Linked DNA regions of Homo sapiens. The protein of the gene in region 2 interacts with the protein of the main gene of each other region in a pairwise test. Each region holds a gene or a part of one and is shown on either strand. Other genes may lie near its edges. The genes, in order: RASSF3 and RASSF4.

The links.
Region 1: the proteins of RASSF4 (region 2) and RASSF3 interact in a two-hybrid assay, tested with the Homo sapiens proteins (one study listed by IntAct).

What each region holds. Positions count from the first base shown.
Region 1 is NC_000012.12:64,690,009-64,697,709, reverse strand, and holds the end of RASSF3 (ras association domain-containing protein 3), read right to left. Parts: intron 6,241-7,701; coding exon 6,131-6,240; intron 2,948-6,130; coding exon 2,798-2,947; 3' UTR 146-2,797; downstream 1-145.
Region 2 is NC_000010.11:44,954,617-44,963,243, reverse strand, and holds the start of RASSF4 (ras association domain-containing protein 4), read right to left. Parts: upstream 3,443-8,627; 5' UTR 3,378-3,442; intron 1-3,377. UniProt on the Homo sapiens protein: Potential tumor suppressor. May act as a KRAS effector protein. May promote apoptosis and cell cycle arrest.

The DNA.
Region 1 (7,701 bases), on a different chromosome or scaffold from region 2:
GGAGAACAAATATGACCCACGCGAACCTAGTAAAGTTGTTGCATTCCAGCATGTGTCCCTGTGTATATGTGCAAAAGCAGCTCAGCGCACTCCTGTGACCTTTTTAAATCTAGCATATTATCATAAATAAACACACATAAACAACTAATAACTTCAATTTTTAATAATGGAAACAATTTTGCCATTCTAGAAACTATTTTAGGGGAGAAAAATCTTCCCTACAAAAATAAACTTAAACCCATCAAAATTATAAATATTATAACTTTTTACTTCTGCCATTTAAAATGCTCTCCTGCAATACCACCCCTTCATTTAACATCCTTCCTGTACCATCACATATTGAAGAGAAAACAGTATTACAGCAAAGCTTAGATAGTTTAACATAATGATTTGTACAATGATTCTTAAAAAATCTTTGGCCTTAGTGGCCTTTTTTCTTCACTTACACATTAAAAATGCTGCTGCAGTAACCAGTGTTTGGGAAAGGACATCAGTCTTCAAGAACCATAAACTGACAGAATTTCAATACAGTAGGTTTCCAAATTGCAATTTGTAGTGCACATGACAGTAAGCGAGGTTTTGGGTAAATATAGATGAGGATGCCTATTCAGACAATCTACTTCAAGTAAAAAAAAAAAAAAAAAAAAAATTCACAGATACCCATCAGCTACTACTTTAGGTTCTAACAGTGTCTTAATCTGAGAAACAAATGCTTCACAAAATATAAGTTTACTGGGATGAATAATTAAAAAACCAGGTGGTAATAACAATATACTCAAATCCAGGCCATAGTCTGAATAATAAAACCAGTACAAAAAATCACGAAGGCATTCCCTGAACAATAAAGGTAAAGTGTTGGATGACAATGTCACTAAAACCTCATCAATGTACAAAAGAGAAGTTACATGCAAAATTAAACAAGATGTGCCATACATATTTTATAGCTAATTCTATTTTTTTCAACTTTCCTTAAATGCTTAGGAAGATATGATTGTCTCAGTAAATTGTGTGGCACAGCATAACAACTTAAGTCTGCCTCCAACAAGATGGGTATTCTCCAAAAAGTCAGAAGAGCCACCAAGAGACGAACAGAAATGCAATAAAAGGCACAGTTCACTTGGGCAAAGAACTGAAGCACCTTGGAATTTCAAAAAGAATCCATTAGGTGTCACCAAAGTGTTAACAATTCCTTGGGAATTTATAAACAAAAAATATCTAGACTAAAAATAGAATATAAGGCCCCTCTGGAACCACTGCACACCTTTCCCTCTGTTCTCAGATTAAACTGCTGCATAAAATGAGGTTATTTAGCCTGTTTTTAAGGAAGGCTTCTATTGCACATGCATCTCTTTGGTTGGTAATAACATGTACTTTTGTTAAAATATTTCCATAATGAAGCCCTGTTGTGTGGTTAGCTGGGTGTGGACTTTCCTCCCTTTCTTGGGGGCCCTCCTACTCACAGTCAAGTTGCCCTTTAGAACTAAAGATCTGGTAGGATTGGGTCTTTATTCAATAGCCCTGTTCTCTATTATGTAAGAACAGATTTCAATGTAGAAAAGAAAGGGAGAGGGAGAGAGAGGGAGGGAAGGAGGGAGGGAGGGAGGGAGGGAGGGAGGGAGGGAGGAAAAGAACAAGGTAGGGTGGGAGACAGCAGGGAAGGAAAGAAAAAAGGGAAGAAAGGAAAAGGAAAGGAGGAATAAAAGGGAAGAGAGTGATTGTCACCAAAGTTTACTTGACAAATATCCTAGCTAACAATCAAGGGAAAAACAGCTGCCCCTACCCAAATTCCGTCTCAACTTTGAAAACCACCTGTGGGGGGAAAGCTATACACTATGTAACTTAACAAGAGTTAGTGAACTGTCACTGTCCTGCCTATGCAGAGCAGCTACACCAATCAGACCTTCCACTCCAAAAGGGCAGAATTAAAGGGTCGGATCCAGCTGCGTGAGGCCCACCTCTGCCCAGGTCAGTAGGCTACACCTGCCTGATTCTCTGATTGGTCAGCTGCAGAGTTCATGGGTCCCTCCTTTTGGTTTAGCTCCTGCCTCTGGCTCTGTTCCCATATTCTACCCACCAGGAAACCAAGCGATCCTAAAATGGGTTTAACACCTCCACACTGAATGCTTTTAACTCGTTTACAAGCAACTACCCCTTTCTCCACTACCCCTAACTGAAAAGCCAAGTCACCTTCCATAGCCCGCAGCACTCGCCACCACCGCACATGCCTTCTTCCAAACTTACACTTTGCTTTCTCTGTCAACCCCCTAACAAAATCCTTCACAATAAATTCCTCAGAGTTCCTAGATTCCTGTGCCTTTCGATTCACATGGATAGATTCCTCTGACATTAAAAAAAGAAAACAAAACCAAACAAAAAACCAGACAGGTAGTTTCAAAATAGGACAAGTATTCAGAAAGATTCCTAGTTAAGCTTTTTAAAAAATCAACTGCATATCTGTAAGCTTAACAGCATCATCACATAATTAAAATAACCAAAAAAAAAAACACCCCCAGAGTTCATGCTTCCAAGCACCCTCGAATGCTCCTGATGAGGCGACAGGTTCACAGCTTGCCAAGAGGTAACACTGCGGTGCTGAACAACAAGCTTGCAGAGTCCCTTACATGGGACGCTAAGGTGCAGGATGCTGTGTGACCAGGTTTGGGGAACAAAATCTACAGATAGAAAGGCGAAGACCCTAGCATAGTGGGGCAAGACAGCAGCCCTCTGAGAAGAGAGGCACTTGCTGCTGTTTTGTACATCGGTCCTGCACCGGGCCTCACGGGCAGGGAGCCCCGCTTTAATCAGGCTTCCACACCTCACGGAGGGCTTCTTCCAGCTTCTGCCTGTAGGCTGTGTAGCGCCTCTTCAGGTTCTGCAGCTGTTCATCTTCTTCCTTGTCCAAGATGCGCAAGAAATTCTGTAGTTCTGGAAGGCTGAAGGCTTCCCACTGTCAGGAAACACAGAAAGAAAAATGCCAGATGTTTAATACTCAGTTAGACTTAGGAATGCTGACCAGGAGCTCCCAGAGGTGCGGCTGCCCTCCCCTCCCAGCCCCATGCCGCAGAAGGTGTGGTCTGCAAGAGCTGGGGTGTTGCCAGCCTAAGGGCTCCCTCCACTCCCACTCCCACCTCAGCTCACACCAATCACCTTCCTACCCTCTCCTCCCACTGTTCAAGACGATCTCCCTAAAAGCCAGAGACCTCCATATCCCTAAGTCTATTGGACACTTTCATTCCTTACCTGATTTGACCCCCAACAGCATTAAAAACAATTCGACAGTCCTTTCATCTTAACCTCGAGTCCTCATTGTAACTGACTTTCTTACCTCGCATAATCAGTCTTATCACCCCCAAACAGTTCTCCATTCAGCCTTTTCTCCCTCGGTACGGCCCCTTGGTGCTAGCTACTATCATCTATTCCTGCATCGCTGGAACAGCTTCCTACCTGGCCTCCTCACTCGGCTCTTATGCTCCCCCATCTGTTCCCCAAACAGAACATCCTTTGTAAAATGCTCATCTGGCCAAGACTCTCCCCTGCTTAGAACCATCCAATGGCTTCCCTTAGTTGCTGATGCTGTCTGAAAGACTCTAAACTCTCCGGCCCCATCTCTCTCTCACCGAGCTTCACTCTCTGCCCAAGTGGCACGCATTCTCCCCTCCTCCACTTTGCCTGGCTATGAACTACTCATCCTCCCCATCTCAGCTTAAATGCCACTTTCTCTAAGCAGCTTTCCACAACTTCCTCTCCTCTCTTCCCACCCAAGGCTAAGTGTATCAAAAGCCTTCACAGAGCCCCTGATCACAACCAAGATTTTTAAATTACAATTATTTGCTTAATATCTATCTCACCTGCACCTTACCTACACCACAGCTGCCGTACTTCTCGCTATTTGGAGTTTATCTCTTGCCTTGAGGCTCTGAGCCTTGTTTCCCTAACAGCTCCTAGTACTTATTTAGCAGGCACAAAATAAGTTTTTAGGCTGGGCATTGTGGCTCATGCCTATAATCCTAGCACTTTGGAATGCTTAGGCAGGAGGATCATTTGAGCCCAGAAGTTCAAGACCAGAAGTTCGAGACCAGCCTGGGCAAAATAGTGACACCAGGTCGCTACAAAAAATTTAAAAATTATCTGGCTGTGGCAGTACATTCCTGTAGTCCCAGTTACTTGGGAGGCTGAGGTAGGAGGATTGCTTGAGCCCGGGAGATTGAGGCTGCAGTGAGCCATGATTGCGCCACTGTACTCCAGCCTGGGTGACAGTGCAAGACCTAGTCTCTTTAAAAAGAAAAAAAAAAAAATTAAAACAGATTTTAAAAAATAGAAGCAGTGAATGTCAAGGAGGGTATCTAGCATCATCTACGAGGTTTTTTCCAAACACATCCTCCTCTCCCAAAGGGGGCCCTGGATCCTGGTGGAGAACTGCTGTCTGATGGTGTAGAGAAAAGATTCAAGATAACCAAATACAAACAAAGAGTGAAAAATAAGTAAATCCACCAAATGGGCTCAGTGGTAGAAGAATTCCTGGAGAACAGTTTAGGCTGGTTATTTAAAAAAAAAAAAAAAAAAAAGAGCAACATGGAGTAGGAGAGCAAAACTTCTACGTTAGAATATTCTGTTAATTTTTAAAATTTTAACAGATTATCTTTCACCTATGTTGAAGTCTCCAAAATAAAGACATCATATAAATATCCCTCCCACCCCCTAACAGCTATGGAAATTTCTTCCTCAGTTCAGTTTTCCTTAAATAACTGAGAAATAAGAACACCATACAGAGGTCCAGTACAGCAGTCTGGAACAATAAAACCCAATGTCAAGTCAATTTCAAAACTAAGTTAAGGCCAGGTGCAGTGGCTCATGCCTGTAATCCCAGCACTTTGGGAGGCTGAGGTGGGAGGATTGCTTGAGCCCAGGAGTTTGAGACCAGCTTGGGCAACGTAGTGAGACCCTATCTCTAATTATAATTAAAATACAATAAAATAACCAAGTTAATAAAATTCTTGCCCAATGTAGTTCTAGTTGCTACTTAAAACACTAAGTACAAGAAAAATAAAACACTGAGTAGACTATGCTAATGTGTCTGGCTTAAGCTGGCAGAGGGAATGGTCACCATCTGCAAAGCCAAGTCAGATTTCTGCACCCTGCCTTCTCCCCAAAATGAGTCTGAATGTCTTGAAAAGCTTCAAAACACCAGAATCAAAAGAAACTTCAAAAACATGTAAAACCACTGTCTTCCTAAAACTCCCTTCACTTACATGTATACATTTCTAATTGTGACTCAAAGCCCACCTTGTAAAGTGTTTAGTCCCACTTAACAGATTTTAAAACTGAGGGCTAAAAGATTAGAAGACTTATCCAAGGTCATGCTACTAATCTAACAAACAGTAGGAAACAGAGCCGTTTCCTAACTTTTAACCTAGAAACCCTATTCTCAATTGCACCATGTAGGACATTTCACACCATTTCCTGTTCCAGACAGAAGACTGGGACAGGAGCTTGGGATTTGCTCAAGTGTCATTTAAAGCTGACACTTGATCTAGAGGGCAGGCTCAAGTGCTTTTTTTCTTCTACTGAACTGGCTAAATACAATCCTCCCTGGAGACAACATGGCAAATGATGCACATGGAAACATAATTTCTTAATCAGTTGACTGGGCAAGGGGGAAAAAAAAGATGCTAGAAAGCTAAATGCCTTCCATGGTAAAGAGATCGAATTTCCTTTTATATCCCTTTAGAAGGGAATTAGCCTGGAGACTTTTGTTAGTAGCAAACACATGGTGAGTGTCAACTTTCAAAGTTCAGCTGGACTGGAGTATTTTGGAGGTGGGAAGGGGTGAAAATGACTCTCTGGATGGAGATCAAGTAAAAAAACTTTATTTTCTCCCACCTCTGAAAATGACAGACTAATAATATAAGGTTGTGAGAGAATGACATCATAGGCTAACTTTGGGTTCATTTCTGACAATTCAAAATCCCTCTCCCTCTCCCTGCCCTCCAACTCTCTTCTCTTCCCATCCCCCTGCCCTCCAACTCTCTTCTCTTCCCATCCCCCATCAATAGCCAAGTCACTAGGCTACTGCAATAAAATAGGGCCAGCTGTTCTGTATAGTTTAAAGCAATAGTGAACAATAACTTACCTCTCCAATTTCATGTTCACGAAGAACAAAACTAAGTGTGTCTGTTCTGGGCCCTGCTACCAAACGCAGGTAGAGTGGATGTTCCCGGTCTGAGAGCTTGCAGGCGTAGACTGGGTAAAGAAACAAGCAGCATGTTACAGAGTATTCAGCCATTCCTGAGACCACTTCCCCATTGTGATCCCCTCCTCCAGATCAAGGTAACCATCCAAGTTACCCCAGCCTCTAAGTCGCCAGTCGGCTCATCTTATTATTTAATACCAGTAGCCCACAGTGGAATAAAATCTATTCTGTTTCTGTTCAAATATAAACTGTGCCTTGATTAAGAAGGAAATTATTTTCAAGAATAAATTTTAATAGATATTAGTCCCAAAATATGCTTATAGTTAGCTCTGCTCTTCCTTTTAGAAAACAAGGTAAGAGCCAGGCATGGTGGCTCATGCCTGTAATCCCAATACTTTGGGAGGCCGAGGTGGGCGGGTCACCTGAGGCCAGCAGTTTGAGACCAGCCTGGCCAACATGGCAAAACCCTGTCTCTACTAAAAATACAAAAAATCAGCCGGGCGTGGTGGCGGGCACCTGTAATCCCAGCTACTTGGGAGGCCGAGGCAGGAGAATCACTCAAACCTGGGAGGTGGAGGTTGGAGTGAGCCGAGATCGTGCCATTGCGCTCCTGCCTGGGCAACAAGAGTGAAACTCTGTCTCAAAAAATAAATAAAATTTTTTTTAAATGAAAAAAAAAAGGCAAGATAAGAAACCTAAAAAAGGGTCCACTACTCCTTTAAAAACAATAAAAATAGGCCAGGCATAGTGGCTCGCACCTGTAATCCCAACACTTAAAGGCTGAGGCAGGAGGATCACTTGAGGCCTGGAGTTCGAGACCAGCCAGGGCAACATAGCAGGACCCTGGTCTCCAAAAAAAAAAAATTTTTTTTTCTAACTAGCCAGGCATAATGGGGCCCGCCTATAGTCCTAGCTACTTAGGAGGCTGAGGCAAGAGCATCACTTGAGCCCAGGAGTTCAAGGTTACAATGAGCTATGATCATGCCATGGTACTCCAGCCTAGGTGACAGAGTAAGACGCTGTCTCAAAAACCAAGGCCAGGCGTGGTGGCTCATACCTGTAATCCCAGCACTTTGGGAGGCCGAGACAGGCAGATTGCCTGGGGTCAGGAGTTTGAGACCAGCCTGGCCACCAACATGGTGAAACTCTGTCTCTACTAAAAATACAAAAGTTAGCTGGGCATGGTGGTGGGCACTTGTAATTGTAGCTACTTGGGAGGCTGAGGCAGGAGAATCACTGGAACCCAGGAGGCGGAGGTTGCAGTGAGCCGAGATTGTGCCACTGCACACCAGCCTGGGCAACAGAGCAAGACTCCGTCTCAAACAAACAAACAAAAAACAAATTTAAAAAAAAATGTATATACCATCCAAAGAACATAAAAACAAGAGTTCTAAAAGCAAATCTCTCTACAGATTAATTAAGAATTAGCGAGGCCAGGCGCGGTGGCTCACACCTGCAATCCCAGCACTTTGGGAGGCTGAGGCGGGCGGATCACAAGGTCAGGAGATCGA
Region 2 (8,627 bases):
TCCAATCACCAGACCCCTCCTCTCCACTCCCGCCATCATCCCTCTGGCTCAACTCACTCCTCCCTGCCCCAGAAGACTCTGCACTGTCCAGGTGGAGGTGATGGAGACCAGGGGAGTCCAGGAGAGGCGGGCACAGAGCTCCCCTCCACCTCCACTCCCGCCTTGCCCTGGACTGACCACACAGGCCCAGCTCACCTTTACTCCCCGCTGCGGTTCTGGCCTCTCACTGACAGGTCTCTCTGAGTCCAGTCCAGCATCCAGGCCTCCCTGATACAGCTCCCCTTCCTCTGAGAGCCTGGCCCTGAGCAGCCATGTAGATCGCAGACCAGCCTTCCCAGTGGGCAAGACTTCTGGCTTCTGCCCTTGTTTCAAGGCAAAGCAATTTGGGACAAGAAAACCATTTCCAGTCCTCCTGCTCCCCCCTTACACCTTAAACATACATTCTCTGCTCCTGGAACCCCCTGAACCACTCCTCAACTTCCCCACCAACCAGGCTCACCTCTAGCCTATGGAAGAGAAGATCCACAGAAACAAAGATCTTCTTAGCTATGGTTTTCGGGCCAAACGTGCTCAAAATGGGCACTGTCCAATATCCCGATTGCCTGGGGCTGGGAGTGCAATGCAGAGGGGCAGACCCCTCTGGGTGCCTGCTGCTGCAGGGCTGCTCTGGAGGCTCTCTACGGCTGCCCTCACCTGTGCTGTCCACTGCCCCAGGCCTGTGTGCCACATGTCACTGCTGGGGACATAAGGGCCCTGTGAGACAAAAGGGTCCCAGAATCTTTTGGGTCATAGAGTCCTTTGGAGTCTCTTGAAAGCTTAGTGCACTCTCCCCAGAAAATGCATGTATGTGCATGTTGTTGCAATCTGCATCCACGTGCAAACACACACACAATTTGCATATCACTGCAGGGAGATGAGACAGCTCTTGTCCATGTACTCCCAGATCCCCAGATCTTAGGTTTAGAATCTCTGCTGAAACCTGTCACAGCAAGAAAGAGGAGGCAGAGGAACGTTGTAGAGCCTTGCATGTGAGTTTTGCTGTGGCATTAACTTGGCCTGTGATCCTAGCGTGTTGCGCCGTCTCTTGGGCATCAGTTTAGCCAGAGCTGTTGTGGCAGCTGATAGAGAGTCTTCAGGGCTCTTCCCAGCACTGCAGCTATGGGGCTCAATGACACCCCACCCCTGCTTCCCAAGGTCAGGCAGGGCAAAGGGAGGGGGTTCCGGGCCTCTTCCTCAACAGTATATCCTAGGGCAGAAGGTGGGACAGCCAGAAAAGGAGACCCCGGGAACTACAAGTTTCTCTTTTACAAAAATAAGAAAACTGTTGAAGCTTTAGGAAGTGCAGCCACTTCTTATTTGATTTTCTTTATTTTAAAACAATTTCCCCAAACATACTCTGTGAGAGAATAACCACCTAGCCTTTGCAAGGCTCTGGGTTTAAAGCTCTGCTCTGTGACTGCCTGGCTCTGTTACCTTAAGCAAGTCCAGTTCCCTCTCTGAACCTTGGGCTCCTCATCAATTAAATAACTATAATCCTCGATGACTTCTGTGAAGACGAATGAGGAGACCTGTAAGATGGGCCTTGTGTTGGGCTCACCCATAATGAAAAGAGGCTCCCATTACTATTCTTATTGACACTGGGAGTTGGGGGCTCTGGAGAGACTGTGGAGCCCCAGAGATGGGAATGTGAGGCCTGCCTGCAGGAGTGGCCATGAATGAGGAGAGAGTCTGAGCTGACACCTGAAACCAGGCCCCAGACCCCAGGGGCCCAGGGCAGAGGGCTTTCTGGCAGATCCCCTAGTTAGGTCTCCCCTTTGAGGCTTTGCACGTCCAGAATCTGAACTCTGACACACACCCAAGTTTCGTTCATGTTCTTTGTTATCTGTCATGGTCCACTTGGTCCTGACCCAGGGCGACCCTGGACCTTGATTCTGTTCTCGACCTCCAGGCTACCCACTGGAGCTTCATGGTGGAAATACAACCCAATCTCCTGAGTTTCAGACAGACACTTTAATCTGTAGCATCAACCTTTTTGTTGTCAAATCACCAGCACTACACACTGAGAGAATTATGGCTAGAACTAATGACAACAGCCTTCACATACACTGACAAAGTGCTGAAACAGCCCATGACAATTTCCGGCCAGCATTTTTTTAACCTAAGTTTAATGAGTTTCATCTCTCCTCTTCCCTCCCTTCCTCTTTCTCCTCTGACCCTCTCCCTTCCTGTCTTCTCCCCTAACCTGCTGTCCTGGCAGAAGTAGCTAAGGAACCACACAGAGGAACAGAAGGCAGGATGGTCTACATTTACCTGTTACTTCACCAATTCACTTCTAACTTAAAAAAAAATGGTTTCTGGCAACAAATCCTGATTGACACCTTAGTACTGTGGGCAGTTAAACTACAGCAAAGCCAGCGAGGGGCTCCTCTGTGAGTGCAAAGCATAGCTTTGGAGTCTAACCTGCTTGGGTTCAAATTCCAGAAGCCCAGCCCTTATTTGCTGTGCGACCTTATTTAATTCCTATGTGAAATGGGGCTCCTGAAGCTGTCCTTACTGTGTTTTAAGAAAGTGCTGGCCCTGGCCTGGGCACTGATTCTGGTGTGAGAGGAGGCCTCCCTCCCTCCGCCGTGCCAGGTTAATGAAAACACTGAGGCATGTTTTGGAAGTGGGAAGTGCAGGATGGGACCGGAGTCAGGAGCCCAGAAGAGCAGGGCAGCAGGCAGGCTGACCTTCGGAGACTAAGGGTGAAGAGCAAGAGACTCAGGGGCACAACAAGCCCTGGGTTCAAATCCTGGCTCCATCACCAACTCATCCGGTAAAGGTGGACAATTTTATAACTCTTTAAGCCTCAGTTTTCACATCTGAAAAGGGGATAACGAAAGTAGGACTCTCACTTGCTGTGAGGAGTAAGAGGCATATCGTGTTAAAGCACTTGGCCCAGAGCAAGGCGAGCCCTCTACAGACAGCGATTGTGAGACAGACCCCCCCTGCTGCTATTATCTTGGCGTTCGATTTCCATCAGTGAAATCAGAGTTGTGCCAGAGGCCTCTAGGCTCTCTCCCCAACTCTAGGATCAGTGCTTCTAGGAAACTGGTTAAGGACAAGGTGAACAAAAAAGGTGTAGCCAGTGGCCGGGCTCATCTGTCTTGCTCAGGTTGTAGCCCCTAAATTGCTTAACAGAGGTGCCAGGCGCAGTGCCCCCTCTCAGCAATGAGCCCGAGGCCCGCAATGCGCCAGGCTGGCGGGGGAGGGACCCTGCGCGCTGCGGCCGAAGGGCACAAGTGCCCAGGCTTCAGCGTCCCTGCCTGGTGGCAGTCCTGGGTCGGAGGGGATGCTCCATGGACGCCCAAGCACTCTCCTGCTCGTTCATCACTCACCGTCCAGTCATCGCGCAGTCCAGAAGCCACTGCATGTGTCGTGTCCTCGCTTGCACCGGAGCTGCGCCCGCAGCGCCTGCTGACCCCAGGCTTCAGCTGCTCGGGGCCAGGCCCGCCCCTCGCCCCGCCCCTCGCCCCTCGCCCCGCCCCGCTCCCCGCCTCTCGCCCGGCACGGCCAAAGGTGCCGCCCCGGTCTCTCCGTCCCGCCCCGAGCACGCCCCTCACTCCGCACCGGCCAATGGCACCGCCCCGTCCGCCCCGCTCTGGGAACGCCGGTAGGTTCCGGGTGCAGGGCGGTGGCCTAGGGGCGGCGGGGAAGATTTGGGGCCTGCGACCTGCCAGGTGTCCCCAGGCCATTGTTCAGCTCGCCGCGCGCTCCCGAGTTCCCGAGGGCGCCCCGGGACGCGAGGAGAAAGCAGCCCGACTCAGCCCCGAGAGGTTCGGTGTGCGGGCAGCGGCCAGGGACTTTGCGGGGTAGCGCGGACTCCTGGACTTCCAACAAGGGCCGCTGCGCAGGCGCTGCAATCACTGCAGGCACTTGTCTGCATGCCTGGTGGGGCTTGGAGTCTGGGGAGGCTTATCAGTAAAGCCCAGAGCATTTGCTATTTATTGCTCAAGGGGCACCTTTGTACAGTCTGGCCGTTTGCTTGGCATGGCCTCTTAGAACTCCTTATTGTTTAAGAAATCCGATCTGGTGAATAAGAAGTTAGTCTTTCTCTCCCAGTCACTGCCTCCTGGACGAATATTTGCCAGCACGGAGGCAGAGAGGACAGAAAACCACAAGCCATTTGGGGAACTGGGAACAGTTCAGTGTTTCTGGGGTGTGGGGGTGTCAAGGTGGGGGATGGGGTTGATGGAAAACATTTGCAATTTCTGCTTTACCTCACGATTCCCAGCTCTGACCTCTGGACCTGTTCTCTCCCACCCCTAACATAAATCATTTTAGTTTCATTCAGTGTGCGTTTCCTAATATTTTTAGGGTCTCATGGCCATTTTAGAATCTGATATGGATCTTCTAGAAAGTGCAGGTGGCCATATGCACCAAAATCAGCCTGGGATTTGAGTCTCATGGGTCCCTGAACTTCGACTTAGAGGGGCTGTGCTAATGCTTGTATGGCTGCTGTATGACTTATGTTGGAACCCCCACCTGCAAAAAGTGACAGGACTGAAGATACCCAGTCCAGGGGCCCTCCCGTTTCTGCGTTTGCTTGAATTTTTGGAGAATGGCCCATCCTTTGACAGCTCTGAGGCTCCCTGTGGTTGGTGACTTGTCATGACACATTTGCTCTTCCACAGCCCTCATCAAAGCTGAGACAAATAATCGGGTGCTTCCAAAGGTTTTTTAAAAGTGGGTAAAATTCAATATAACTGTCAACCTCTGAGCATGAGATCCTAAGAATTTAATCACTCCTGATAGGAGAAGTAAACATAGCACCAGGGTGACATAACAGTTTCCCTGGGCTCTCCAGAACTCGAGTGTGAATCATTCTCTCTGACCTAATTAATGCTGTTCACAGGGCCATGACTGGCTCTGAGTGAGGACTGGGTTTGGGACAGCAACCCCATGTGTCCTGTGCACCCATTGTGGGCTCAGACACTATGCTAGTGCTTTACATTGGGGATCCCATGCAATTCCCCCAGCACTCCTGGGCAGTTGGTGTTACTGCTTGCATTTTTTAAAATTTCCATTTTTATTTTAAATTTAGGGGATACACGTGCGGGTTTGTTACAATTGTACATTGTGTGGTACTGAGGTTTGGGATTGATCCTGTCACCCAGATGGTGAGCATAGTACCCAATAGGAAGTTTTTCACCCCTCGCCCCGCTGTCTCCCTCCCACTTTTGAAGTCCCCAGTGTCTATTGTTTTTATCTTTATGTCTAGGTGAACCCGATATTTAGCTCTTTTGCTTGTAAGCGAGAACATGTGGTGTTTGCTTTTCTATTTCTGCATTAGTTCGCTTAGGATAATGGCATCCAGCCACATCCATCCTGCTGCAAAGGACACGATTTTATTCTCTTTTATGGCTGTGAGTGCTTGCATTTTACATCAGACACAGGTGTCCATTGTCAGCGTCCTCCCCTCAGAAGGGGAGGGTCCATTGTCAGACCCCTCAGAAGGAGGGGTCACCTTTTCTTTCAGGGTTCAGTAGAACTGGGTGTGGTCTCCAGCTCACTTATGGTGGAGGCTACAGATACTGTTGGTTGCCAGCCAATGTCCATTTCCTTCTTTGGAAAAAAGAAAGATAGGAAAGAAGGAAAAGGACAAAAAGGAAGGAAGGAAGGAAGAAAGGGAAAGAGGGAGGGAGGAAGGAAGGAAGGACGGAAGGAAGGAAGGAAAGAAGGAAAGGAGGGAAGGAAGGAAGGAAAGGAGGGAAGGAAGGAGGGAGGGAGGAAAGAGGGAATGGGGAAGAGAGGAAAGAGAGAGGGAGGGAGGGAAGGAAAGGAGAGAGAAATACCCACTTGTCTGTAGCAGCAACATGCCAGCCCCTAGTTATGGCTCATGCCCACTTGTATTTTTCATACTCTACTTACAACCCAATAGTGGGTCATGAAATTAATTTAGTTGATGATGTGACTAGTACTTCAAAAATGCAAGGGAAAATACCAGTGTACAGCACAAATAGTAAATATAAGTTGTGTTTTGTGGAACTTTTTGTTTGCATTGTTTATGTTTCAGTTATGTGTGCTTCTTACTGTGGGTTACAGTTAAAAAAAACAAAACAGCTGTCTAAGTCTTGACAATCCTTTTCATAGCTTTTTTTCAGTGAAGCTAGAAGTGGCCATACGACCTACTTCTGGACGCAGAGATGGGGGAAGGTGTCCTGGGGGAGGAGAGATCTGAGGGATGGTGAAGATAACTTTTGCTTTTCTGGTAGAAAGAACAGATGTCTCTCCTGCCTGCCTGTCTCAAATGAGGACATGATGTGTAATGTCTGGAGCACTGGCAGCCATGTTGAGATCATAAAGCAACATGTCCGCATGCTGAGGCTGGCAGAGCATAAAGATCAAAGGTGTCTGGATCCTTCTTAACATCATGGAGCTTCTGCACCAACCCTGCACTGCCTACTCCAGACTCCCTACCATGGAGAAAAATTAGCCCCTATTTCTTCAAGGCAGAGGTTGGTAAACCTTTTCTGTACAGGGCTGGATAGTAAATATTTTAGGCTTTGTGGGCTAAATGGTCCGTGTCACAACTACTCACCACTACTGGGGTAGTTTGAAAGTAGCCATAGACAATATGTAAACCAAAGGACATGGTTGTGGTTCTCATAAAACTATTTTAAAAAATGGATGGCAGGGCTATAGTGTGCCAACCCCTTCCCTAGATGATCTTGTCCCCTAATTGTCTCTCTGACCTCATCTCCTCCTACTGCCTCTCCTTCTCCCTGCTCTGATCACACTGTTTCTCCCACACACCCAGCCTGTTCCTGTCAGGGTCATTCCTTCCCTTGGAGGGCTCTTTCCCCAGATGTCCACAGCGCTCCCTCCTTCCCCTGCTTCAGGTCTTTAATCACAAATCACCTCCTTTTTCAGGTCGTCCCTGGGCCCTCTGTAAAATGCCCGTCCCTGACCCACGCATACCACTCTGGCATGCTGTATATTCCAGTCTTTATCATGAGCTCCTAGAGGAAGAGACACTATGTTTCCTTAAAAACTGATTCTGTCTGGATTGTCACAGTGTTTAATCAATATCTGATGTATGATTGATTTTTTTTTTTTCTTTTTGCCAGATTCAGGTAAGAAAACAAACTCAGGGAGGCTGAGTTCCCCCTCCAAATGACATGTGCAGATAGTGGCAGAGTCCAGGTTTGTGCCTGATGGCCCAATGTGGTGGTGTCTGTACCACCCGGGAGTGAGGGAAAAACAACATCTACCTCTAATGGAACACACTGGGTCTCAGGGGAGCCAAGGCCACACAGAAGTTCCTGCAAGACTCCTTGCTCCAGGGCGCCGCCCCAGTAAAGGAGGCCTTTGGGAGTCCATTAAGTGAGCAGGGTGTCCTGTTCGTCTTGGGCAATTGCATTCTTTTTGGCCTTCCTACCTCAGAAAGACTTAGGAAATGCTGTTATTCTGCAAACAGTTTGGACTGACTTGTAAGATCCGTAAAAAGACAAATGGAAACACTCATGAGCCAGTGTTTTTATGAAAGAGCCGCAAAGGATAAATTTATGTTTAATTCGCAAGTAGGGAAGCTCATAAGAGCCTAAGAGCTTGATAAAGGCTACTGGGCCCATCTGTCAGGCAGGCTGCTCTGTGTGGTTTTGGCTTGAGGCATCTTGGCACCAGGGCACAGCTTCCAAAAGACCGAAAAATTACCTTCTTCCCTTTGGTGCTCCCAGGGGGAAATGCCTGGGTACAATCACATGTTGTTGAGATGTCATTTAGATTTTTGAGTCCTGAAAAATAGGTTTATATATCTTGATGTAAATGATATTAATAATGAGAACCATTTTCAAGCCATTCTCTTAAGACAGTAAGTGGGATTTTGAATTAATTTCTGATAGATCTGATTGATTCCTTAAGGCCTTTTATGGATGGCTTCATGTGATTTTTTCCCCCTTCATTGTATCCAACATTAAATTAAAAACAAATGACTTTTATTTCTCTTTCTTCTTTTTCTTTCTCTTTCTTTCTTTCTTTCTTTCTTTTTCTTTCTTTTTCTCTTTCTTTCTTTTTCTTTCTTTCTCCTCTCTCTCTCCCTTCCTCCCCCTTCTTTCCTTCCTTCCTTTCTTTCTCTCTCTCTCTCCTTCCTTCCTTCCTCTTTCCCTCCCTCCCTCCCTGCTTGCTTGCCTTCCTTCCATCCCCTTCCTTCCTTCCTTCCTTCCTTTCTCTCTCTCTCTCTCTTTCTTTCTTTCTTTCTCTCTCTCTCTGTCTCTCTTTCTTTCTTTCTTTCTCTCTGTCTCTCTCTCTCTTCTTCTTTTTTGGCAAGTCTTGCGTGCTCTGTCCCCTAGGCTGGAGTGCAGTGACAATCACAGCTCATTGCAACCTCGACCTCCTATGCTCCAGCGATCCTCCCACCTCAGCCTCTTGAGTAGCTGGAACTATAGCCATGGGTCACCACACCTAGCTAATTTCTAAATTTTTTGTAGAGACAGGGTCTCTCTATGTTGCCCAGCTGGTCTCTAACTCCTGGACTCAAATGATCCTCCTGCCTCGGCCTCCCAAAGTGCTGGGAATTCAGGCGTGAGCCCTGATGCCCTGCCACAAATGACCTTTTCAAGCAATTTTTCAAAAAGTCTGTGTGATTC